Linked DNA regions of Homo sapiens. The protein of the gene in region 1 purifies or fractionates together with the protein of each later gene. This does not show direct contact. Each region holds a gene or a part of one and is shown on either strand. Other genes may lie near its edges.

What was found. Proteins that work in one complex are often made in the same cells at the same time.
Region 2: the proteins of GUCA1C (region 1) and SERPINA10 purify together in Homo sapiens (affinity purification with mass spectrometry; one large-scale study listed by BioGRID and IntAct). This does not show direct contact.

Annotation. Positions count from the first base shown.
Region 1 is NC_000003.12:108,912,380-108,915,879, forward strand, and holds part of GUCA1C (guanylyl cyclase-activating protein 3), read right to left. Parts: intron 1-3,500. UniProt on the Homo sapiens protein: Stimulates guanylyl cyclase 1 (GC1) and GC2 when free calcium ions concentration is low and inhibits guanylyl cyclases when free calcium ions concentration is elevated.
Region 2 is NC_000014.9:94,283,269-94,286,768, reverse strand, and holds part of SERPINA10 (protein Z-dependent protease inhibitor precursor), read left to right. Parts: intron 1-510; coding exon 511-661; intron 662-2,612; coding exon 2,613-2,804; 3' UTR 2,805-3,500. UniProt on the Homo sapiens protein: Inhibits activity of the coagulation protease factor Xa in the presence of PROZ, calcium and phospholipids. Also inhibits factor XIa in the absence of cofactors.

The sequences.
Region 1 (3,500 bases):
CCTGACTTGTCTTGTTGTCTTCTCTGTTTTCATTTTTGAATAATATTGAATGTTTAGCTTCAATTTTTTGCCTCTGTCTCTTCAAGCTCTCTTTCCTGATGCTTTTGTTCGTAATATAAAAATAAAACTAATTTGTTAAATTATAACAATAATATGTCCTCATGATTAAAAAAATTGAATAATACAGAAAGATGTAAAGAAAAGAAAAAAATTGCCCTTTAACCTCTTTCTGGCACCTGGTCTGATTTCCCAAAGGTAATTAACTCCTGCTAACTGATCCAGGTTTATATTTTATGAAGTTTTTAACATATATACATGTATTTGTTAATTTCAAAAAAAAAAAAAAATTCTAGATACCTTTCTTCCTATAGACAGAATTGCATATTGTTTCTTGATTTAATCTTTTCTTTATTTCTTACATGACATCTTCTTAGCAGACACTCTTTCATTTCACAGTTATTTATAGAGCACCTACTGTGTGCCAGCATAGGAAATATCAAAGTAAACAAAACGGAAATGGTTCTGGCCTTTGTGGAGCTCATAGCTCTTCATCTTGTTATAAATCTAGCATTAATCCTGTACCTTTATTTTGCTTAACCTTCTAACTTTGATTTGCTATTATGAGAATTATGTTTAGAATATTTCACAACTGTTGTGTATTTTTCTGTCACAACAGATGTGATGTTGACCATTCTTTTGCAAACAATTAACAATCAAATTGGGATTTTCATATGCATACCTAAAGTCTTTTTAGTTGTATCTTTGTGTGCTGTGATCATCTTTACTTTTGGTTTCAATATTCATTATATTATCGGCATAATGATGTGCTTGCTTTTTATTTTGAGAAATAAATATATATATATATATATGTCAGTGTACAGTCAACAGCATTTTGGTATACTTAATTGAGCATCTCTATTTCTATCAATGCTGATGTTTTGATAACAATGATAATGAACAATAAAAAATTATATTTGAGGTATACAGAGTTTAGCTTTTACAAATGTGAATAGACATTCTCCTCTGTGGTGCTAATTCCCCCTTTATTTGTAAATGAAGCACTTCATATTATTCTTCTCTGTCAAATACTGGCCAAATCCTTTTGTACTTCTGCAAATATCAACCTTTTATGTCTTCATCACTTTTTCTTCCTTGTCTTTGATTACACTGGGCTGTCTCTGTTCACCAGCACATTTGTTAACATCTTTTTCTTGATGTATGGAATGATCCAGCTGTCTCATGATGAAACGATGTAACAAATGTCAATAATTTTTATACAAAAGCAAGTTCTATCAGTTTTAGTTCTGTATATGCATTTGCTAAGAAATAGCGATTCATAGGTACTCCAAAGTGTATATAGATGTGGATGTGCGTATATTTTTTTTACTTAAAATACAAGTTTTTGGGGCTGGGCACGGTGGCTCACACCTGTAATCCCAGCACTTTGGGAGGCTGAGGAGGGTGGATCACAAGGTCAGGAGTTCGAGACCAGCCTGGCCAATATGGTGAAACCCCGTCTCTACTAAAAATACAAAAATTAGCTGGGCATGGTGGGGGGAGCCTGTAGTCCCAGCTACTTGGGAGATTGAGGCAGAAGAATTGCTTGAACCCAGGAGGCGGAGGTTGCAGTGAGCCGAGATCACACCACTGCACTCCAGCCTGGGTGACAAAGCAAGACTCCATTTTAAATAATAATAATAATAGTAATACAAGTTTTTATAAGAGGAAACAATTAGTGTATTTAGTTTTATAAACTATTCTAGAAACCATAATTCATCTCCTTTTTTCTGTCGCTGACTTATTGTTGTAAGTGAAAGAGCTCATCTCTCTAACTTCAGGTAACCTCAGCTATTGCCCAGGCACAATTTCTCTTTTCTGAATTCACGTCTCTTTTAACCCAGCCCTTTCTACTTCAAGTTCCTTTCTAATCACAGTCCCCATTTTATCGATTCCTTATACTTTGCCCTTGGGGAACCTTCTTGGATAGTAAACAAAAAGTCCTGAATCATATTCATGTTTTCTCGAATACACTATCTGTGTCCTCAAACTAATAGAATCTTAGTGTTTTCCTAAGAATACCAAAATCTTCGTACTTCTCCGAGGAAGGTCACTTTCCTATTCCCCTCACTCCTAGCACTAGAAGCAGTGTTCATGGATATTATTAAACATTCTTGACCTGCCCTTTTGAAAGTCACTGTATAAACCAAGTCTTAAAACTTTGTGATGTCCCATCTACTTCCGGAGTACTCATTCTTCTACATCAGTGCTTTCAGCCCCAGGCTGAAATGGATGATTTACTCTACTCCAATCCCTGCCATCCTGCAGCACCTCTAAGATTAAAAACAAAGTGAAACAGAATAAAATCTACAGCATTTCTCCAGTTCGATGACCACGATTTTCAGTGGCATATTCCAAATAAAGTCTTCATTGTCCTCATCAGACCCTCCACTCTCCATTTCTCTGGTCCTTTCCTGGCTGCACGTAGCCTCCTTATCTACTCTGGGTAGTCTGACTCTGTTTCTTACAAGCTTTCACATGTACTGACATGTTTCATTATTTGATGTCAGTATACTAGTAAGTGAGCATACTGAATTGAGATTCAGGAGAGGCAGATCTACACCGAGGTGCTTAAGAGAAGAAGATTGATGCAACTGATGCATCTTCAAATTTCTTTCTTGAGCAGTATACTCTTGTCCAGTCGTTTGGCTTTTTTGCAGCAGTGGCTGCATTTGAGCTTCCTCCCGGCCTCACCATCCCATCCTGCCACGCTGAGCTGCCACATTTTACTAGTACAACCTGTCACACTCAACATGGGAACATGTGTCTCTACTGCCCTCTTGTGTCCACCAGAAGAAGTGATGCATGGTGGGCAGGTTGATGCCTTTGGAAGGAGTTTTGGAATGATGACAACTGTGATTGGCATGCCAATGCCTCTTATCCGTTTTCTTAAACCTTTTACTAATATCCTATATTTTTAACAATGTCAAATTTTCTGTTTTTCAAGGACCATTCCTAGATCTTCTGCCTCAATCTCAAGTCTTTATGCTCACCTACCTGTTTGCTGATATCAAAGCTACATGGTAGAAGCACTCATTTCTCTTGGGCTGTCTGTGTCTTCTCTCTTCACTCCTACCTCTGAAGAAGAAAGGTACCTCCTCTGAGCTAAACAGGAACCCAGATTACAGAGTAGAAAGAGCAGATGGAGAAATAATCAGAGCAGAAATGTAGATAGAAAAGGTAGAAAAAGCAGAAATGGAGGCAAGTGTGGACTCTTCTCCAGAAATGTTTAGTCCAAAGGAAGAAAAAAGCCTGATAGTAGAAGAAGATAGCATAAATGAAGGAAAGTTTTCTGCAGTAGGGAAAACTTGAGTTTATTTATAAGCTCAAGTTTTCTGTTACTGGAGAGTTTTCCTCTCCAGTGGAGAGGAACTGATTAATAGAATGTGTCTCAGAGCAAACAGCAGAAGGTACTTACTTCATCCTATATTATTCTGATTTAT
Region 2 (3,500 bases), on another chromosome or scaffold:
TGAGCCACAGAACTCATCTTTTCAAGCAACATATTTTCAAAGGAGGACTCCAGTATACAAAATAGATGGTATCAGAGCTTCTCTGGCTAAAGACGGGTAGGGGTTGAAAGTTTTCTTTGCTCCCCTCCCCATCCATCCCCAGACTCCTCGGGTCTGCAGAATCCAGGAGCTGAAAACAGCCATCATCCAGGAGGCTGCAGGACTGCTGAAAGCAGCTGTTAACTCAGGTTTTTTTTAAAATATAGGGAAATGAACACATAAGTACTTTGCTAAAGAAAACGTGAGTCACTGGCTGAGGAATAAAACTCATTCACTGAAGCTGAAGTACTATTTGATAAGCTAGAAATATTTTCCCTGAGTAGACCACTGTAAAAGAATGGCATGAACTACATAGTCAACTGAAAGACTCATTAATGGAAATAATCTTAAAGAACAAAAATTGTGACCTTTTTGGTGTCCACAGACTAGGGCTTTGTCTACATTTCACCATCATCTGTTCTTGTACCACAGAAACATGGAAGTTTTCTTTCCGAAGTTCAAGCTAGATCAGAAGTATGAGATGCATGAGCTGCTTAGGCAGATGGGAATCAGAAGAATCTTCTCACCCTTTGCTGACCTTAGTGAACTCTCAGCTACTGGAAGAAATCTCCAAGTATCCAGGGTAAGTCAGGATCTTTCATCAGAGCCCAACCTCAGCATGAAATGTCACCAAAACAAATGCTTTTACAAACCATTTAACTTTGATAAAATACCTAATTGTAGTGGAAAATTAGATTTAAGTCCCAAATACTTGAAATAGCACCCAGGTTGGATGTTTTAAGAATTTCAAGCAACTTCATTAAAATAACTTTTCAACTAATTTATTTTAAGCAGACCTCTCCCCCTCTGCTTAAAGTGCTCAGGGAGAAATTTGACCCTGAAATAGAACTGGTTTACAGAGGCATCATCATTTATGTTGAATACAACTTGAATAGTTCATGAAATTACACCACCTTTACAATGAAACAAACCCCTAGACATCATCTAGCCCAACTTCTCCCTCCTTGTGGAAATCCCCTCCATAGCCCTACGAAATAGCCCTCCAACTTCTCTTCCTCTTCATGCTTCCAGTGACATCAAACTCACCATTTCTTTGAAGAGCTGCCCAATCCACAAATAGCTAAAATTGTTATATGTATATATATATATGTGTGTATATATATGTATATATGTATGTGTGTATAAATGTATATGTGTGTATATGTGTGTGTGTATATATATATACACACACATATATATATATATGGAGAGAGACATACATATATATATGGAGAGAGAGAGAGAGAGAGTCCTGTAACTTCTGATTCATACTTTTTGGTCCTAGTTCTATCTCTAAAACTTCTAAGAACAAGTTTAGTCACCATCCACATAGAATCCCTTCAGTTACTCAGTGTTTCTCAGTGGAAGGGTTCTTGGTTTTGAGGGGAACTGCTTGTTGTCCAGAGCAGTTGTGCATGTTGCAGGGAACTGGTTAGCATTGCTGGCCCATGTTCACTAATGCCAGTAGGAAACTCCAGTCATCACTATAAAAATGCTCCCACACATTTCCAAATGGCAGCTACATCTCTCTACATTCTTCCTTAGCTGTGTGGTTTAATATTTTCTTATACAATTGCAATTTTCAATTCCAAGAGAGACTAAAAATGGCATCCACTTAAGTAGGACACAGTAGGGTAACTGTGGCCTGGAATCAGGTCTTACAACCTCAAGAGAGGTAAGACAATTAAATAAAACAATCCGTCAGACCAGCACCTGAAAGTGTTTCTGCTATGAACACATGAAAAACTGAAATGCGCTGCTGCTTTATGAAGGGTCATCATGAAATTTAAACTGTAAATGATTAAATATTCTCCCTCTGTTTGCTCTGGGGAATTAATTTTCCTCTAGGAAATCAGGGAATTTCCTGGAGTGAAAATCAGTGTAATTACATGTTATGTTTTCATTATCTCTTATAACACAGTAATTATATAGGTACATCACTCATATCACATCTTGTTTCTGTAAAAAAGGGCCTCCCAAACATAGCAAGCAGCCACAGTATAGGCAGCCAGAATTCAGGAAGGCTCCAGGGACCCCTGGGCTTGGCCCAGAAAAATGCCTCAGAGTAGTACCAGGTGCTGGGAAGCTGCTACAGAAGACTAGCCATTCCCTGCCTCCACCTTGCCTGCCAAAAGGAAAGTCAGAGGACTCAAGGGATCCAGGGATCAAGGGATCCAGGCAGCTTGAAAACCTTTTAGGAGCACCAGCTCAGCTCAAGAATTAGTAGCATAAATTACATGCTCAATAAAGATTTGATGCATGAGTGCATCCTGAGTCCATGCCCGGAATGTGTTTCACATATTCCACAATACTTCACATTGGGTTCCTGAGGTCTCCTGGTATTGTTTAAGACTCCTGTGGCAGTCCCTGGTGCAACCCCAGACCACTCCTCTTAACGTAGATGGGCCTGCTCCACTAAATCCCAGGAGCATGACCCCATGGGTAGGACCACTGTGAAGAATTTCAAGGGGCTCATTTAATTCCTCCTTTGCACTGCCACACAAATGGTTTTTCACATTATTTCCTTTTTCCAGGTTTTACAAAGAACAGTGATTGAAGTTGATGAAAGGGGCACTGAGGCAGTGGCAGGAATCTTGTCAGAAATTACTGCTTATTCCATGCCTCCTGTCATCAAAGTGGACCGGCCATTTCATTTCATGATCTATGAAGAAACCTCTGGAATGCTTCTGTTTCTGGGCAGGGTGGTGAATCCGACTCTCCTATAATTCAGGACACGCATAAGCACTTCGTGCTGTAGTAGATGCTGAATCTGAGGTATCAAACACACACAGGATACCAGCAATGGATGGCAGGGGAGAGTGTTCCTTTTGTTCTTAACTAGTTTAGGGTGTTCTCAAATAAATACAGTAGTCCCCACTTATCTGAGGGGGATACATTCAAAGACCCCCAGCAGATGCCTGAAACGGTGGACAGTGCTGAACCTTATATATATTTTTTCCTACACATACATACCTATGATAAAGTTTAATTTATAAATTAGGCACAGTAAGAGATTAACAATAATAACAACATTAAGTAAAATGAGTTACTTGAATGCAAGCACTGCAATACCATAACAGTCAAACTGATTATAGAGAAGGCTACTAAGTGACTCATGGGCGAGGAGCATAGACAGTGTGGAGACATTGGGCAAGGGGAGAATTCACATCCTGGGTGGGACAGAGCAGGACAATGCAAGATTCCATCCCACTACTCAGAATGGCATGCTGCTTAAGACTTTTAGATTGTTTATTTCTGGAATTTTTCATTTAATGTTTTTGGACCATGGTTGACCATGGTTAACTGAGACTGCAGAAAGCAAAACCATGGATAAGGGAGGACTACTACAAAAGCATTAAATTGATACATATTTTTTAAGATGTTTGTGCAATCTGTCTGGTATTTTAAGCTTGTTTCTAAGA